2 separate regions of the Homo sapiens genome follow, and region 2 is linked to region 1. Evidence: fine-mapped expression QTL. A gene starts in region 1. The other region holds a variant in brackets. All regions are shown on one strand. Distances are between the middles of the regions.

What was found. PIP is the estimated chance that this variant, and not a neighbour inherited with it, causes the effect.
Region 2: its variant is fine-mapped to the expression of TEAD3 in whole blood (TOPMed, PIP above 0.99).

Annotation. Positions count from the first base shown.
Region 1 is chr6:35,493,786-35,502,093 of GRCh38, reverse strand. It overlaps TEAD3 (TEA domain transcription factor 3), which reads left to right and starts at 5,015. Exons shown (of 13, transcript NM_003214.4): 1 at 5,015-5,196. TULP1 (TUB like protein 1) reads left to right here. Exons shown (of 15, transcript NM_003322.6): 14 at 1,942-2,113; 15 at 3,634-4,220. The coding sequence ends at 3,767. It overlaps LOC124901309 (a long non-coding RNA gene), which reads right to left and starts at 3,961. Exons shown (of 2, transcript XR_007059561.1): 1 at 3,887-3,961. RefSeq lists enhancers at 3,179-4,108, 4,109-5,039, 5,986-6,771 and silencers at 4,508-4,837, 4,848-4,977, 5,158-5,207.
Region 2 is chr6:35,705,319-35,715,753 of GRCh38, reverse strand. It overlaps a transcript of FKBP5 not described here. Among named protein-coding and RNA genes, the nearest start is that of FKBP5, 22 kb to the right of the region's middle. The variant T/A (reference allele first, on the strand shown) is at 5,338.

The DNA of each region.
Region 1 (8,308 bases):
AGCAGACCTCAATGAGAAGGTGAGGGAGTGAGCCTACAGATATCTGGGGGAAGAGCACCTGGGCAGTGGGAAGAGCCAGTGCAAAGGTCCTGTGGCAGGAGGGGCCCTGGTGGACTGGAGGAACCACCAGGTGACCAGTGTGGCTGGGGGGAGAGGAGGTCAGAGAAGTGAGGGGTAGACAGGGTCTTTAAAACTGATTTTTGCTCTGAGAGAAATGGGAAGCTACAGCAGGGTTTTGAGCAAAGGAGTGACATGACTTGTTTTTGTTTTTGTTTTTGTTTTGAGACGGAGTCTCGCTCTGTAACCCAGGCTGGAGTGCAATGGCCTGATCGCAACTCACTGCAACCTCTACTTCCCAGGTTCAAGAGATTCTCCTGCCTCAGCCTCCCGAGTAGCTGGGATTACAGGTGCATACCACCATGCTCAGCTAATTTTTGTATTTTCAGTAGAGACGCGGTTTTGCCATGATGGCCAGGTTGGTCTTGAACTCCTGACCTCAAGTGACCCACCTGCCTCAGCCTCCCAAAGTGCTAGGATTACAGGCCTGAGCCACTGTGCCCAGCCTTTTTTTTTTTTTTTTTTTTCTGAGACCGAGTCTCACTCTGGGTCTCACTCCAGCCCAGGCTAGAGTACAGTGGTATGATCATGACTTACTGCAGCCTCGACCTCCTGGCTTCAAACAGTGCTGCTTCCTGCCTCAGCCTCTCATGTAGCTGAGACCCTAGGCACATGCCACCATACCTGGCTAGTTTTTTGTAGAGCCAGGGTCTCACTTTGTTGCCCAGGCTGGTCTTAAATTCCTGAAGTGATCCTCTCGTCTCGGCTTCTCAAAGTGTTGGGATTATATGCGTGAGCCACTGTGCTTGGCATGACTTGTATTTTAAAAAGCAAAAGTTGTTTTGCGTGTGTGTGTGTGTGAGTTTAAGATGGAGAGATGTTCTGGAGAGACGTGTCAGTCCCGTGCTCTGCTCTTTAGCACTGCAGGTCCAGTGAGTCCAGGATTTAAGAGACTCTGGGTGACTCGCATGCCCCATCCTCACAGGAGACTGATGTCATTTTACTCATTTACAATGAAAGATAATACCCCGTCAGCTGATCACACATCCTTCCCTGCTGGAAAGTCACGGCCCAGGCTGATCTGCAGGGCACCAGTCATGGGAGGCTCAGTCTTGAGGGTTCACTCAGCCTGTGGGCCCCACAGTTGTCCTTCCTATGCCTGGAATAAACACACAAATCCCCCAGAGGCAGCATCTCCTGCCCTTGTTTGGGCCCAGTAAGAAATGCCTGGTGCTGTTTCGGGTCTCTCTTTTGCCAATTACAGTGCAGTGGGAGGAATGGTAAGAGCAAGGTGTCATGGAAACTCAGAGCTGAGACATCTAAATCAGATGGGGGGTCAGGAAGGCTTCTTGGAGGTGATCTTGAGTGGACTCACTCTAATCCATGAACGTGAGCAGGCGACAAGGAAACTCAAGAAAGAAAGATCTTAAGGGCACATTATACAGACCCTGCTCCTTCCTTTCAGAAACTCTCCTCCAAGTACACTTTCTCTTAACTGCAATTTACCTATCCATCTCCCCAGCTCAACTGTGTGCCCTTTGCAGGTCCAAGATTGGCTCATCCTGTCATTAGGTACTGGTGTGTGTCTGTCTCCTAAGACCACCTGGGTACCAATGGCATGGAGCGCCTATGTGCCAGATGCCCCTTGCCATTTTCCAGCCCTCCGCTTTGACATCCCAGAGACAAAGCCCCATTCTCACAGATGTGAACCCTGTCCACAAGGATGCCACAGATGCCAAGCCTATTCTCAGATACCCTAATGGATGAAGATGTCCAGGCCACACCCCTGTGCACACATGCCCAGGCCCCTTCTCCGGTCAGTCCTGAGCCATCTCAGCCATCTCTAACTGTCCTCTCCCTGTCTACTCCCCTGGGGCACCCCAGGCTAGTGACGGCCTGCTGGTGCGCTGGCAGAACAAGACGCTGGAGAGCCTCATAGAACTGCACAACAAGCCACCTGTCTGGAACGATGACAGTGGCTCCTACACCCTCAACTTCCAAGGCCGGGTCACCCAGGCCTCAGTCAAGAACTTCCAGATTGTCCACGCTGATGACCGTGAGTACCTGAGGGCCCAGGTCTGGCTCTTCTCCACCACCCCCAGGATGCTGACCTTCATTCAAGCTCCCCTCACCCCCTCACACACACACACACCAGCCTTTATCCCGAGAGCTGGGACATCCCACAGGGTCACTCTCTCCTCCATAGGCACTGACACTGTGCTCTCAGGAGCCTCAGATATTCTAAGCAGGTGTCTTGGGGCTCATCACTTCAGGTTCCCATTCCAGCATTGGCCAGAGCAGTGGGTTAGATACTGGGACATTCTGGATAAGATTGTGTTGAAGGGAGGGTTGGCTCCTAGAGTCTGAAAACCACGGACAGCCCAACTCCTCTTTGTTCAAAGAGAGTGCTGAGGCTCAGAGAGGGCAGCCCTTTGCCCAGAGTCTCTCAGCAACTTCAGGAAGTTACACTGGCCCTCGAAATTTATTTCACAAAACTTACACAGTGTTTACTATGTGCCAGGCACTGTTCTCAGGATTTTACAGATAACTGAATCATTAAATCCCTTCAACGTCCCTGTGAAGAGTGCCATTATTATCCCTATTTGGCAGGAAACTAAGGCACAGAGAGGTTAAGCAACTTGCCCACGGTCACATCACTAGTAGGAGGTAGAGCTGACAGTCTGGATCTCCAGTGGCCATGCTCTTAATCTCTTCAAGATGGTTGCCTTTTAGGGGCAGGGAATATTAAGCATTTTTGAGTGCCTACTCTGTGTCTTCTCTCAAGTGAGGTCAAAGGACTACCCTGGAAGACTCAGGGAAACAAGGTGTCCCTGTTACAAGCCTTGGTTGGAAAGGCTTCCTTCCCACTAGGGTGAGGAAGTTTGGGGATGGAAGGGTATCTCCCATAAGTCTCTGGGTTCACAGGGTTGGACCAACATTGAGCGAGCCCCAACTGCATCCTAGGGATGTGCCCCCAGTGCCACCTGTCCTGTGGCTGTGGGACTGCTCTCCAGATCACGTTTCTGGTGGAGCCTCGTCCACCTGAGTTTGGGGGTATTTTTAGCAACTTCCTGTCCCTATGGATCCTGGGGGAGGTGCTGAGGTTGGGGCTGGGAACCTGGATCATTGAAGGGAGAGGTGCCCAGTGAGGCTGAGGAAGGGAACCAGGGGCTAGTCAAGGGGTGGAGCTGGGGTCTAAGGTGGGACTTCGTGGCTGGGGATAGGAGGAAAGACTGTGGCCAGAAACAACAGAGAATTTGGGAAGGAAGAATGCTGGGCTTGGATAAATTTGACAGGGTCCTATAGTTAATCAGGTGCGGGCTCTAGGCATGGCCTGTGGCAGCAGCAGAAAGGCAAGGTCCCTGCCCCCAGGAGATTATAGTGTGACTGCAAAGCCACGTGGTGCTGGTGTGGAGTGAGATAGAAGAAGGGATGGGTGTTGAGTAACTGAGATGGTGGCTGAGGGTTGGAGCCCCAAGGCAAGGGACAGACTGCCCCCAAGGTTGAGGGCACTGTCTGCCAGGATGGGGGTCCAAGGAGGTCTCGGGCCGCCCCCACCCCGTCTTGTGTCCATAGCCGACTATATCGTGCTGCAGTTCGGCCGCGTGGCGGAGGACGCCTTCACCCTAGACTACCGGTACCCGCTGTGCGCCCTGCAGGCCTTCGCCATCGCCCTCTCCAGTTTCGACGGGAAGCTGGCCTGCGAGTGACCCCAGCAGCCCCTCAGCGCCCCCAGAGCCCGTCAGCGTGGGGGAAAGGATTCAGTGGAGGCTGGCAGGGTCCCTCCAGCAAAGCTCCCGCGGAAAACTGCTCCTGTGTCGGGGCTGACCTCTCACTGCCTCTCGGTGACCTCCGTCCTCTCCCCAGCCTGGCACAGGCCGAGGCAGGAGGAGCCCGGACGGCGGGTAGGACGGAGATGAAGAACATCTGGAGTTGGAGCCGCACATCTGGTCTCGGAGCTCGCCTGCGCCGCTGTGCCCCCCTCCTCCCCGCGCCCCAGTCACTTCCTGTCCGGGAGCAGTAGTCATTGTTGTTTTAACCTCCCCTCTCCCCGGGACCGCGCTAGGGCTCCGAGGAGCTGGGGCGGGCTAGGAGGAGGGGGTAGGTGATGGGGGACGAGGGCCAGGCACCCACATCCCCAATAAAGCCGCGTCCTTGGCCAAGCGGAGCGGTGGTTCCTCAGCGCGTGCGGAGAACGAGGCGGCAGGAGGCGTCCGAGGCGCGAGCTGGAAGTCTCAACCCCCGTCCCACTCCTGCCCAGGCCCCGGGCGCTCCCGCGTCCCCTCCCCGCGCCCGTCGCGGGTCCTACCGAAACTCGGCGGCCGCACAGCGTCGAGACGCCCCCCGTGGGGGCCCGGGGAGCCGGGGCGAAAGGGAGGGTCCCGGAGGTCGGGGAAGAGGGAGAAAGGGAGAAGAAATTCGAGAAACTAGCCACGCGGGGAGAACCAGACAAACCGGGTCCCGGCAGGGCGGGCGCAGCCGCCAGGGCGGAGCCGGGTCTGGGGCCCCGGGAGTGGGGGGCAGGCCCGCGAGCTGGAGGGTACGCTCCGCCTTGGCGGCTCGGGACTAGGGTGGAGGGGCCGGGAGCCCCGGGGCCCGTGCGCTCCGGCTCTGCCGGGCTCCTCGTGACGCGGCACCCACGGCCCCCGGCACCGACGGGAGCCCTGCCCGCGAGGCGAGGGCTCCGCCCTCGGCCCCGCCCCAGGCCGGAGCCCCAAATTCCGGCGGGTGCCCGGGAGCGGGGCGAGGCCCGGAGCGCAGGGGGAGGAAGGCAGCTCCGCACGGGCGGGCGAGGAGCGGGGCGCCCAGGCGCGCGCCAGCCGGGGTGGCCGGGTCGCGAGGCCGCGGGGTAGGCGGCCCGAGCGCGGCTGGACGGCCCCGCCCCTCCCGGCCAGCACCGCCCCCTGCGCGCCCCGCCCCCTCCTTCCCGCAGCCCCCACCCCCGCCCCGGCTCCTCAACACAAACTTTCCGTCCCGCTCGCTCCCTCCTCCGCGCTCGGCGCCTCCCGCTCCAGCCCGGCTCATTCCGCACATTCCGGCCAGCCCCCTCCCCACGACCCCCCTTCCCCGGCCCCCCTTGCGGCTCCCTCGGGCCCGGCGGAGCGGCCCGGCCGGAGCGCCCCCGCGAGCTCGGACCAGGTAAGCCGGGCGGACGCCGGGAGGAGGCCCCGCTCGGGAGAGGTGGTTTGGTTGGTCGGCTGGGCTGGCTGGGGGGGCGACACTCGAGGGGGACTGGGTCCCCGAGCTATTGTCCAGCCGGAGCTGGAGCCCCGGATCGGGGTGCCGGGAAGTTTAGAGGGAAGGGGGAAAATCTCTCCGGGAAGCCCCGCCCCCCGCCCTCCCCACCCCCCCGCGACGGGGACGAGTTGGTCCGGGAAGGTGGGGAAGCCGGGGAGACCGTGTCCCCTGTGCCGTCGCCTGTCCCGCCGTCCGTGCTTGGGGGGTCGGGGCGGGGATCCGGGGGCCGCACAGTGTGGAGGGCCTGCCTGCCACCCTGGAGCTCATATCCGGGGCGCCCAGTCCCGGGCCCCGCCGCCCTTTGGACTCCCGGCCCGCGCGCTCCCGGAGCCCGCCCGGCCTCAGCTCCACGCAGGCCTCGGGCCCGGCCTCCCAGCGCCCAGGCCGGTTTCTGCGCGCGGTGCCGCGGCTGCGCTGGGTTGTGGAGGGTGTCTGGGACCAAAGCCGCGCGCCCCGGCCGTGTGTCCCCTGAGAGGCAGGGAGGGGCTCACGTTCCCTTCAGTTCTGCCGCCTGCGTCGGGGTGCTGATTCAGAGTTCCAGCCCTGAGCGCTGTGAGCTTGGCTCGGAGGGGTCTGGATTTGGGGCCTTTTCTTCCCCACACTTGCTCAGGGCCCTTGTTTAGACTTGACAAGGTTTGAGGGTGGCTGGTCTCCCGCTTCCTACCCCGGTCCCCACCATTGTCTGTCATGCCCTTTATTCCTGCTAGGGGAGGGAGGGCTGGGAGCGCTGGTCTGGATCTGTTTTCCAGCCCAGCTGGGCCCTGGGGCAGTGTCATTGAGACCCCGCTCTGTCAACTTTCCTGGTGAGGGGCCCTGATCCAGGGCTGAGAGATTCTTTCAGTGCGAGGGGGAAGGAGGCCTTGGGGCGGACTTCTCAGGGGCTGTCTTCTTCTGTGTCTTCCCTCTTTCCAGGTAGGGGCAGAACCAGGTCAGGCCTGGACTTGTTGTCCGGAAGAACAGGGCATAGGGGTAGGGGCTGGACACAGCTCAGAGGGGCTGGTGCCCATAGCGGCTCTGCGTATCCAGTCTCTTGTGGCCTGGTTCTCTGTACACATGTTCCACCCCAGTGCTGGGGCCACCTGGGGCAAGGAGGGGAGGCTTTCCTCAAAAGTTGGAGATTTGGGGGAATTATGTCCTCTCCCTTCTAGACTCCTGTAGCCCCCCTCCCACCAAGACCCCTCTCGTAGGGGCACTCCCTAAAGGATGTGGTTCTGTGGTCTTCTGGGTCCCTGCTCACCCAGTGGGCAGAGTGCACAGATCTTCCAGGACAAGGCTGTCCAGTAAGGGTAACTTCAGGGGCCCTGGATGCCCCCTCCTCAGGGAGAGGGTAGGAGCCAGTATGAGTCCCAAGCTCTTGGGCCTTCCCCTACCCCCCCAGGGAGGGAACGTCATTAATGCTAATGAGCGCATCTGGGCTGGGGAATGGCTTGTTAGAGTGGTCAGTGGTTGCCAGGACAGAGCAGCACATTAAGTGTACAGAAGCATCACATGGGTCCTGAGCCCTGCTCCCATCCTCACCCAAAGGTTTGTAGACCCTGGCACTTTCTGCCAACTGAAGGAATGTTAAAACCGGGAGGATTTGATATTCTCAACAATATCAAAGGAGAAGATATCTCAACAGAGGTGGTCAAGAAATAGGGATCTGGTCCCCTCCGGACCTTTAACCAGTTGCGCCATCTTGGCAGGCCCCTTTGGGCCTCAGTTTCCCTGCTTGGAATGAATGACTTCTCAAGTCCCTTTTCTCTGAGCTCCTCCCAGAGTCTGTCTCCCAGTTTGCCTTCCTTCTCCCATGATGGAACCTGAACTTGGTGGGGTCTGGAGAGGCGGGTGGGTGATCCAGTGGCCCAAAGAAGAAGGCAAGGACAAACCAAGGGGTGACTGAGGAGTAGCTCAGCCAGATGAACAGGGCTGAAAAGGTGGCGGGGGGCAGGTGTCAAGGGACAGGGGGGCTTGGTGGATTGGGGGATCTTGCCTCTGAAGTGGTCATGGGTTCTGTTAGGGCTGAATGGCACAAAGGGTGCTCAGAGGCCGCTTGGGTGGCTCTACCCTCTGCCCCACTCCCAGACACCTGTGGGGGTCCCAGGGCTCAGTGTGGAAATCGCTGGTCCTGCCCTCCTCCTCCTCCCCGCCCAGGATGGGGAGAGGAGCCCAGGGGTCTAAACGCTGCAGCTTTCTGTGAAGGGGCTAGGAGGTCGCAGCCTCTTCTTCCCACATGGGGGCTGCAGAAGCTGTGGGGTCCCAGGGGTGGCCCTGAGGATCTGCCTCTGGGTAGAGCTGGGGAGGTCAGCAGGTCACACTCGGCACTGTCCCTGGGGCCTTGCCCTGCCTTCCCTCCCCTCCCCTCCTGGTGTTGTGCCAGCCCTGGGCTGTCTGCAGAAGGGGCCACTTCCCTCCAGGGAGAACCCTGCCAGGGAAAGGGCTCTGCCTGTCTTCCCCGACCCACAGGAGGTTGAGGTTAGGGCCAGAGAGGTTCATCCCCCTGCACATCCCTAAAGCCTCAGCCCTTGGGGTTTCCTAGAGTGCCGATTGTTTCCTGTGCTCCCTGCCAGGCCTGAAAGGGCAGGAAGTGTTAGAGGGAAATGAGAATGCAACTGTGTGTGACGCTGGATGTGTGTGAGAGAAGCCATGAGTGGGACATTCTATGTGGGTGAGACTTGTCTTCTGTGGGGCTGGATGTGTGTGGAAGAGAACCTTGGTCAGAGCAACTTGTGCAGGGCTGGGTGTATGCAGGAGAGAAACTGTGGCTTTGTGACATTCGTGTGTGTGACAGATATACACGTCCATAAGAGAAACTGGGTGACTCTTCATGTGTCCAGGTGTGCCGCCACCTCTGTACCTGAGAACCTGCATGGGGGATGTTCTGTGTGTGCCAGGGCATCACCCAGGATGTGCCGATGAAGGAAGCTGGCTGCCTAGCCATCTGTGTGTACCTGGAGATGACACTGGGTGTGGCTCTGATGCTCAAGTGACCTGCGTGTGAAGGACACCGCACTCGCACGATGCTGTGTGTATG
Region 2 (10,435 bases), 210 kb before region 1:
ATCAGATTGGAAACCCAAATGCCTGGCATGGCACAGCCAGCCGGCCATGCACAGCATGCAACTCGCAGCCTGCCCCCAGCTGCACGTTAAGTTCCAGCCTCATGGAATTCCTCCTGGTTCCCTCAGCTTGCTGTACTGGTGTACACCTCTGAGCCTTTGTACATGCCGTTCCTGCTGCCTGGATGCCCTTTCCTCCTTGACCTAGCAAGGAACTCCAAATCTTTCTAGACTGAGGGGGGCCCTCTTTGTCTCTATTGGAACACATTTTATAATAGTGCTGGCAATAATGGCACTGTTCTGATTACTTTGCACATACATATATATAAACAAGCATATATATATAAGCTTGTTTAAGCCTCATAACAACCTTGATAGGTACTATCATTATCATCTCCATCTTCTAGTTGGGAAAAATGATACACGGAGAGATGAAGTAACCAATTGACCTAAGCTGACGTGCCTAGTAAGTGGCGGAGTGGGATTTACTCACAGCCAGTTTGGCTGAAGATGCTGTGAAATGAATAAATGAATGGACTCATTAACATTTAATGGAATGCCAGGAGCAGTGGCTCACACCTGTAATCCCAGCACTTTGGGAGGCCAAGGCGGGTGGATCACCTGAGGCCAGGAGTTCAAGAGCAGCCTGGCCAACATGGTGAAAACCTGTCTCTACTGAAAATACAAAAATTACGCAGGCGTGGTGGCATGCACCTATAGACTTGGGAGGCTAAAGCAGGAGAATCGCTTGAACCCAGGAGGTGGAGGTTGCAGTGAGCCGACATCGTGCGACTACACTCCAGCCTTTTCTTTCCAAATTAAAAAAATTAATAAATAAATTTAATGGAATGAAGAAGTAGGGCTCACCTTCATTTATGTAAGACATCTGCCACGCTAAACCTATTTTATTTTTATAGAACACAGAATTTTTTTTTTTTTTTTGAGACAGAGTTTCACTCTTGTTGCCTAGGCTGGAGTGCAATGGCACGATAGCTCACTGCAACCTCCATCTCCCAGGTTCAAGCGATTCTCATGCCTCAGCCTCCCAAGTAGCTGGGATTACAGGCTCCCGCCACCATGCTCAGCTAATTTTTGTATTTTTAGTAGAGATGGGGTTTTGTCATGTTGGCCAGGCTGGTCTCAAACTCCTGACCTCAGGTGATCTGCCCACCTTGGCCTCCCAAAGTGCTGTGATTACAGGCGTGAGCCACCACACCCAGCAGAACACAGAGTATTTTGAAGAAAATACATTTTGAGAGTAAAATCCTATACATCTTGTTTTTCTTTTCTTTTTTTTTTTTTTTGAGGCAGTGTTTCGCTCTTGTCACCCAGGCTGAAGTGCAATGTCTCCATCTCGGCTCACTGCAACCACTGCCTCCTGGGTTCAAGCAATTCTCCTGCCTCAGCCTCCTGAGTAGCTGGGATTACAGGCACATGCCACCACGCCCGGCTAATTTTTGTATTTTTAGTAGAGACGGGGTTTCACCATGTTGGCCAGGCTGGTCTTGAACTCCTGACCTCAGGTGATCCACCCACCTCAGCCTCCCAAAGTGCTGGGATTACAGGTGTGAGCCACTGTGCCTGGCCGCCTAAGATTTTTCAAGTCAGTAAAGAGAGATGTCCTCATAACCCCTTAAGGACCTGCTTAACCATGGGTGGGTGTCAGCTCCTTACTAAGCAAGCCCTGTGGTTTTATGCCCCCAGGGAGACAGACCCCCTGAGAAGTGACCCCAGGCCTCAGTTGAAAGAGCCTCACATCTCAGTGGATGGGCTGGGGACAGAATTGTTCCAATCAGGGATGTCTGTGAGGGATTTCTGGAAGAGGTGAGATTTGGGCTGAGTCTTGACAGATTTTGACAATCAGAGGGAAGGGAGAAGGGCAGGAAGTCAAGAAAATATTTGGACCCCAAGGCTTAGTAGTTGGACAGGTGGGGCAAGAAGGCAGGGGAGAGAGGATGTGAGGGTGTGAGTCCGGAGAGGCAGGTCACAACCCTTCTGGGTGGCTGCACAGTTTTGGACAAGTGGCTGCTTTTTACATTCTCTGCTACCCTTTATGCAAATTGAGCATTTAAGTCTGGGAAAAAGCTCACAGGAGAATCCCCAGGGCAGGAGCGTTTGCTGCTCCTTGGGCCCCCACCCGCCAGCTAGCAGCTTCAGCCTCCTACACTGACTTCTGAGAGGTGCTGTGACTTAGAGCATATGTCACAGCTGTGCTGCTTGCTAGAAGGGTAGGTCTTTTAAAACCTCTGTGCCTTCATTTCCTTAACTGTCAAAGGGTGGTAGTGTCTACCTCATAAGGTTGTTGTTGGAGATTAAATTAGTGAAGGCACCTTAGACCATCTAGACCACCAGCTTCATTAAGTGCCTAGTAGACATTAGCTAATATTGTCACTGGAGCCAACGGTCTTCATAATGAGGCAAAATTCCATTGGGCTGTCCCTCTTCTAGGCCACAGGATTTGGCCTTGGCTGCTGCCTCATTCTAGTCCTAAGGTTCCCCCAACAAGTGTGGCTCCCATTGACCTGAGCCACATCCTCCTCACTCACCACATGCCCCAAGGAGTCACTCCCCTCTTTTTGCCCCACCCGCTTATGCCCACTCTACTAATACTGGCTTCATGTTATAAGATTTTTTTCTTTCTTTCTTCTTCTTCTTTTTTTTTTTTTTTTTTTTTTTTTTAGAGACCAGATCTTGCATTGTCGCCTGGGCTGGAGTGCAGTAGCGTGATCACGGCTCACTGCAGCCTTAACCTCCAGGGCTCAAGTGATCCTCCCACCTCAGCCTCCCGAGTAGCTGGGACTACAGGCACCCACCACCACACCTGGCTTTGGGATAAAATTAGTTTTGCTTTGTGCCCACAGGACCTGAACAGGAAAGCAAAACTGTGATGAAGGTTTACTAAGTAGTTTTGGGGAGTGCCCAGGCCACACGGCCAGCTTCAGTTCTAGGGTCAGCCCAGTTCCTGCCATCAGAAGTGAGTCTCAGAAGACAAGGCACTGGTGCCTCAGCATCTCCCTGAGGGTAGCCAGCTTACCACCCTGCATGTTGCCAGGCTTGGGAGATACCTGTTGGCGGTTTGCATGACAGGGTGAAAGCAGGATCTAGCTATGCAATGACAGCCCTCGGATCTCTGAGAACTAGGACAGGATGGTAGACAAATCTGGCTCCTTGCTGTGAAGGGGCAGGTAGTGAGAGAACTGGCTTACAAAACAAAGCCTGGGCCCTTTCCTAGTGCCAGGCCCAACTAGCTCTTCCTTAGCAAACCATAAGGGTCTCAATGCTTCTCTTTGAACTTCCAGGCATATCTCCCTGGAAGATACCTACCACCCCTTACCCTCCTTACCCCCTTCTGGGGCTTTCTCCTGACACCTCCCATTCTGCAAAAGCCTTCTCTAAGATTCCCCTGTAAAATGGAAACAAACAAACAACTCTGTGGCAAGGGTTGAGATGATGGAGTTGGCCTTAATAGTTAGAAATTCCAGGTGACAGGCTTAATTCACTTTGGCGCAGGGGATAAAGGGAAAAAAGAGAGCGGGTAACAAACAATTATTCGCAAGCTATTTTCTAGAAAATACAGAGAGGCCAGGTGTGGCTCATGCCTATAATCCCAGCACTTTGGGAGGCTGAGGCGGGAGGATTGCTTGAGCCCAGAAGTTTGAGGCCAGCCTGGGCGACATAGGGACACGCTGTTTCTACTTTTTTTTTTTTTTTTTTAATTAGCCCAGTGCGATTGTACACACCTGTAGTCCCAGCAACTTGGGAGGCTTAAGTAGGAGGATCATGAGCCAGGAGTTCAAGGTTACAGTGAACTATGATTGCACCACTGCACTCTAGCCTGGGCGATAGAGCGAGACTGTCTCAAAAAACAAAAACAAAAAAACAGACAGAAGTAGAAACATAATGTACCAGACTAGTAAGTACACACACACACTGTGTGTTTTAAATCAACTTTACATGCGCATAATTTACTTATGATAAAATGCACCCATTTAAGTGTACAGTTTGATGAGTTTTGACAAATGTTTACCTGTGTAATGTCTATCACAATATAGATTAATTCCTCCACTCTAAAAGCTTCCCTGTTTCTTTTTCTTTTCTTTCTTTCCTTTCCTCTCCTCTCCTCTCCTCTCCTTTTTTTTGAAGTGGAGTCTTGCTCTGTTGCCCAGGCTGGAGCACAGTGGCACGGCCTCAGCTCACTGTAGCCTTCACCTCCCGGGTTCGAGCAATTCTCCTGCCTCAGCCTCCTGAGTAGCTGGGATTACAGGCACCCGCCACCAAGCCCAGCTAATTTTTGTATTTTTAGTAGAGACAGGGTTTCACCATGTTGGCCAGGCTGGTCTTGAACTCCTGACCTCAGGTGATGCACCCACCTTGGCCTCCCAAACTGTTAGGATTACAGCATGACCCACAGCTCCCGGCCTTCTTTTTTTTTTTTTTTTCTTTTGAGACAGGGACTTTGTCGCCCAGGCTGGAGTGCAGTGGCGAGATCATGGCTCACTGCAGCCTCAACTTCCCAGACTCAAGTGATCCTCTCACTTCAGCCTCCCAAGTAGCTGGGACTACAGGTGCGAGCCACCACTCTTGGCTTTTTTTTCTTTTTGTAGAAACAGAGTTTCACCATGTTGCCCAAGCTGGTCTTGACTTCGCGGACTCAAGCCATCTGCCTACCTCAGCCTCCCAAAGTGATGGGATTACGGGCATGAGCCACTGCACTGGCTGTGTTTGTTTCTTTTTGCAATCAATCGCTACCTGGCCCAAGCAAGGGCCCATCCCTACCCGGTCCAGTCTGCTTTCTACCAGTATAGATTAGATTTATATTTTCTAGAATTTTACATAAATGGAGTCACACAGTATATACTCTTTTGTATCTTGGCTTCTTTTGCTCAACTTAATGTTTATAAGATTTGTTCGTGTTTTTGCACATATTAAGTAGTGTGTTCCTTTTTATTGCTGTATTGTATTCCACTAGATGGTTATACCATAGTTTGTTTATTCATTCTCCTGTTGATGGACATTATGGTTGTTTGTCATTTTGGGCTATTATGAAAAAGTTGCTGTGAACACTCTTCTACAGCTCCTTTTGAGGACACATGTTTTTATTTGTCTTGGGAGCAGAATTGCTGAGTCGTATGGCAAATGTGTGTATGCTTAACTTCAAAAGAAAACTGCTAAACTGTGTTCCAAAGTGACTGTATGTTCTCACCAGCAAAGTATGACAGTTCCAACTGTTCCACATTTTGACCAGCTCTTGGTATCATTGGCTTTTTATTTTTCACACCTTTTTTTTTTTGAGACAAGATCTCACTCTGTAGCGCAGGTTGGAGTGTAGTTGTGCAATCA[T/A]GACTCACTATAGCCTCAACCTCCCTGGGCTCAGGTGATCCTCCCACTGAGTAGCTGGAACTGCAGGCACACCACCATGCCCAGTTAATTGTTTTATGTTTTGTAGAGACTGGGTTTCCTATGTTGTCCAGGCTGGTCTCGAACTCCTGGGCTCAAGCAATCCTCCTACCTCAGCCTCCCAAAGAGCTGGGATTACAGGCATGAACCACTGCGCCCAGCCCTATGTTTTGCACTTCTGGTTAGGTGCAGAGGATCTCTCGCTGAAGCACACAGATGCTGCCCTGCTACCTTTTCTGAAGCTACTCTTCCTGCCCCTTGTTCTTCCACAACTGCTCTGAGCATCCTTCTGTTTCTGCATGTGCTAGGATCATTTCCTGGAATTCTCATCTTTTGGGCCTTAGCACAAATGTTGCCTCCTCAGAGGTCTTCCCTCACTACCCTCTCTAATGGAATTCTCAAGACTTTTTATCGCATTACCCTGTTTGTCCCGTGAGAACATCAGCTCCATGAACAAACATCTCTTGTCTGTTTTTTTTTTTACCTAAAAGCAGTGCTTTAAAGATCATAGATGCACAATATATATTGCTGAATGGACTTGCAAGTCTAAAGTGTATGTTCAACATATTGACCTTTGGGGTCCTGGGAATGAAAGCGTTTGCATGACATCAAATCAGAAATATTTAAAGCATAAGTTATTTTTATTGTCTGGGACTGTTCTATTTTGCATGTAAATATCTTAAAATCCTGCAAATATAGAAAACAAGAAAGAAAAGAAAAAACAACCATAGTTTCATCAAACTATGTTGATTTCTAAAAAATCAAATTGTTATGGTTTAGAAATACAAATCATTTTTTAATTAGTTTAAAACTGATTTTTAAAAGTTCACTTTTGAATAAGTTATATTTGCACATGGTGAAAAATTCAAACAGTATATACTTCTGGAAAATGTTGCCCATATGCGAACATAGTTATATCTTTCTGCACTTTTTTCCAAAAATAGTATCATACTGTATGCATTGCTTGCACCTTGCTTTTGCATTTAACAATTTATCTTAGAAATCATTCCACATCATTATATGTGATATGGTTTGGACCCAGTAGGAGGTAATTGAATCATGGGGGCAGGTCTTTCCCATGCTGTTCTCATAATAGTGAATAAGTCTCACGAGATCCAATGGTTCTATAAGGGGGAGTTTTCCCGTGCAAGCACTCTTCGCCTGCCAATATCCACGTAAGATGTGATTTGCTCCTCCTTGCCTTCCATCATGATTGTGAGGCCTCCCCAGCTATGCAGAACTGTAAGTCCAATTAAACTTCTTTCTTTAGTAACTTGCCCAGTCTCAGGTATGTCTTTATCAGCAGCGTGAAAACAGACTAATATAATATCTATCAGTTAAGATTAGGTTTGGCTGCTAGTGAAAGAAAATTAAAAATATCAGTGTCTTGCAAAATTAGACATTGATTTCTCTCTCTAATGAAGTCCAAAGGTAAGTGGCCAGGCAATACCAGGATTCCATAATTATCAGGGACCTAGGATCCTTCTGTCATTTTTATGCCATCTTCAACATGGGGCTTCTACCTCATGTTTCAATATGGCTGTCTGAGCTCCTGCCATTACATCTGCATCTATCCAGCAAAACAAACAAACAAACAAACAAAAACATTAACAAGAACACAGGGGCACACCTACCAGCAAAGGAGGCTGGGAAATTTATTCTTTATTCCAAATAGCCATATACCCAGCTCAAAAATCAGAGGGGAAGAGAAGAATGGATACTGGGGCACAACTAACAATCTCTGTTACAAGTATACATAGATTTGCCTCATTAAAAAAAAAAATGCTATATAGAATTCCATTGTACAAGGCCAGGCGCAATGGCTCATGCTTGTAATCCCAGCACTTTGGGAGGCCAAGGTGGGTAGATCACCTGAGGTCAGGAGTTTGAGACCAGCCTGGCCAACATGGTGAAAGCCCACCTCTACTATATATACAAAAATTACCCAGGCGTGGTGGTGCACACCCATCCCAGCTACTCAGGAGGCTGAGGCAGGAGAATCTCTTGAACCTGAGAGGTGGAGGTTGCAATGAGCTGAGATCACACCACTGCACTCCAGCCTGGGTGACAGAGGGAGACTCTGTCCCAAGAAAAAGAATTCCATTGTACGAATGTACCATTATTTATTTAACCAGTTGGCAGACCTTAAGTTATTTATACTCAGTACAAATGATGCTGTAAGGAACTAGATCTTTATACCTACCTACTTCCTTGGCATATATGGGAATATTTCTGCAGGAAAAATTCCTAGAAGTGGAATTATCAGGTCAAAGACTGTGTTAGTTATTGCCAAATTTCCCTCTGAAGAAGTTTCATCAATCTTTGCTCTTACCAATAATATTTTCCCACACCTTGACCGACCTACTGTATTACAGAACTGTAGCAGTCTTCTAGGGAGAAAATGATGTATCTTTCTGACAGGTATAACATGGTCTTTGTTTACATTTTTCTTATCACAAGTTAGGTCAGAAGTCAGGAGATCATATCCTTTGCCAGAACATGGAGCTGGAGGCCATTATCTTTAGCAAACTAATGCAAGAACAGAAAACCAAATACCGCATGTTCTCACATGTACGTAGGAGCTAAATGATGAGAACACATGGACACAAAGAGGGGAACAACAGATACTGGGGCTTACTTGAGGGTGGAGGGTGGGAGGAGAGAGAAGGGAGAGGATCAGAAAAAATAACTCTTGGGTGCTAACTTAGTACCTGGATGACAAAATAACCTGTACAACAAACTCCCTTAACATGAGTTCACCTATATTACAAACCTGCACATGTACCCCTGAACCTAAAATAAAAGTTAAAAAAACAAGTTAGGTCAAAAGTCTTTTCATGGCCGGGCGCGGTGGCTCACGCCTGTAATCCCAGCACTTTGGGAGGCCGAGGCGGGCGGATTACCTGAGGTCAGGAGTTCGAGACCAGCCCCATCATGGAGAAACCCCGTCTCTACTAAAAATACAAAAAAAAAAAATTAGCCGGCCGTGGTGGTGCATGCCTGTAATCCCAGCTACTCGGGAGGCTGAGGCAGGAGAATTGCTTGAAACTGGGAGGCAGAGGTTGTGGTGAGCCGAGATCACGTCATTGCACTCCAGCCTGGGCAATAAGAGTGAAACTCCATCTCAAAAAAAAAAAAAAAAAAGTCTTCTCATACTTACCAGTGATCTGAATTATGAAAGTAGTTCAAGTATCTGGTAATAAACTTAAAACAATATAAAGAGAAATACAATAAAAACGAGTCCTTTTTCCTCCCTAGATTCCCAGTCCCATCCCCTTAGGCATAACCACCGTTAAGAGTTTCTTGCATATCTTTCCATAAAGTTCCACTGGGACTTTAATTACATTTAACTATACATATAAGATTTTTAAAAAGTAGAAGTGGGAGTATCCATTATACTCTGTTCTATGCTTTGCTTTTTCACCTAATATATTTTATAGATTTTTCTATGTAAGCACATAGATACATACCATATTCTTTTAAATTGTTGCATATGTTGAATGGCAAAGCCATAATTTAATAAAACAATCCCCTGCTACTGATGATCAAATTGTCTTTAGTTTCTTGCTGTTACAAATACCGCAGAGAACATCGTTGTATATATAGTTTGGCCAACATGTAGGAGTACAGCTATAGAATGAATTCCTGGAAGTGGAATATTAGGTCATTGAGTATGTGGGTTTTAAAATTTGATAAACATTGCTAAATTGTCTGACAAAGAGGTTACACAATCTTCACTCCCACAAACGAAAATGGCTTTGCCCTGTTTCCCACATTCTTACCTATACTGTATATTATCAAACTTTTAAATCAAGTAGATACAAATGGCATATCATTATATTAAATTGCATAATTTTCATTATGAGTGAGGTGCAGTATCCTCTTATGTATTTCTTTTTTCTTTTTCTTTTCTTTTCTTTTTTTTTTTTTTTTTTGAGACAGAGTTTCACTCTTGTTGCCCAGGCTGGAGTGCAATGGCACAATCTTGGCTCACTGCAACCTCCGCCTCCTAGGTTCAAGTGATTCTCCTGCCTCAGCCTCCGGATTAGCTGGGATTACAGGCATGCGCCACCATGCACAGCTAATTTTTGTATTGTTAGTAGAGACAGGGTTTTACCATATTAGCCAGGCTGGTCTTGAACTCCTGACCTCAGGTGATCTGCCCGTCTCGGCCTCCCAAAGTGCTGGGATTATAGGCATGAGCCACTGCGCCTGGCCCCTCTTATGTATTTCTAAACTATTTGTTTGTTTGAGACAGAGTCTGGCTCTGTTGCCTAGGCTGGAGTGCAGTGGTGCCATCTCAGCTCACTACAAGCTCCGCCTCCCAGTTCAAGTGATTCTCCTGCCTCAGCCTACCGAGTAGCTGGGATTACAGGTGCAAGCCACCACACCTGGATAATTTTTGTATTTTTAGTAGAGACGGGGTTGTGCCATGTTGGCAAGGCTGGTCTCTAACTCCTGGCCTCAAGTGATCCATGTGCCTGGGCCTCCCAAAGTGTTGGGATTACAGGTGTGAGCCACTGCATCTAGCCAACATTTTCCCTTATATTATCTTTATAGTTTCATCTTTTACCTTCAGATCTTTGATTCATCTGGAGTATTTTTGTTGTAAGAAATGAGGTAAGGACCTAGCTCCCCTCACCCTCCTCACCCCCAGATAGCTAATCAGTTTTTCCACCATTAGTACTGAATACTTAAATGTTTCCTCACTGCTCTGAAATGTCCATAGGTAGTTAGAACTATTTCTATATTTTATATTATTTCATTTGCATGATTTAATTAAAATATATTTGCAGGCCGGGCACAGTGGCTCATGCCTGTAATCCCAGCACTTTGGGAGGCCGAAGTGGGCAGATCATGAGGTCAGGAGTTCGAGACCAGCCTGACCAACATGGTGTAACCCCATCTCTACTAAAAATACAAAAATTAGCCGAGCATGGTGGTGTGTGCCTGTAATCCCAGCTACTCAGGAGGTTGAGGCAGGAGAATTGCTTGAACCTGGGAGGCAGAGGTTGCAGTGAGCCAAGATCACGCCATTGCA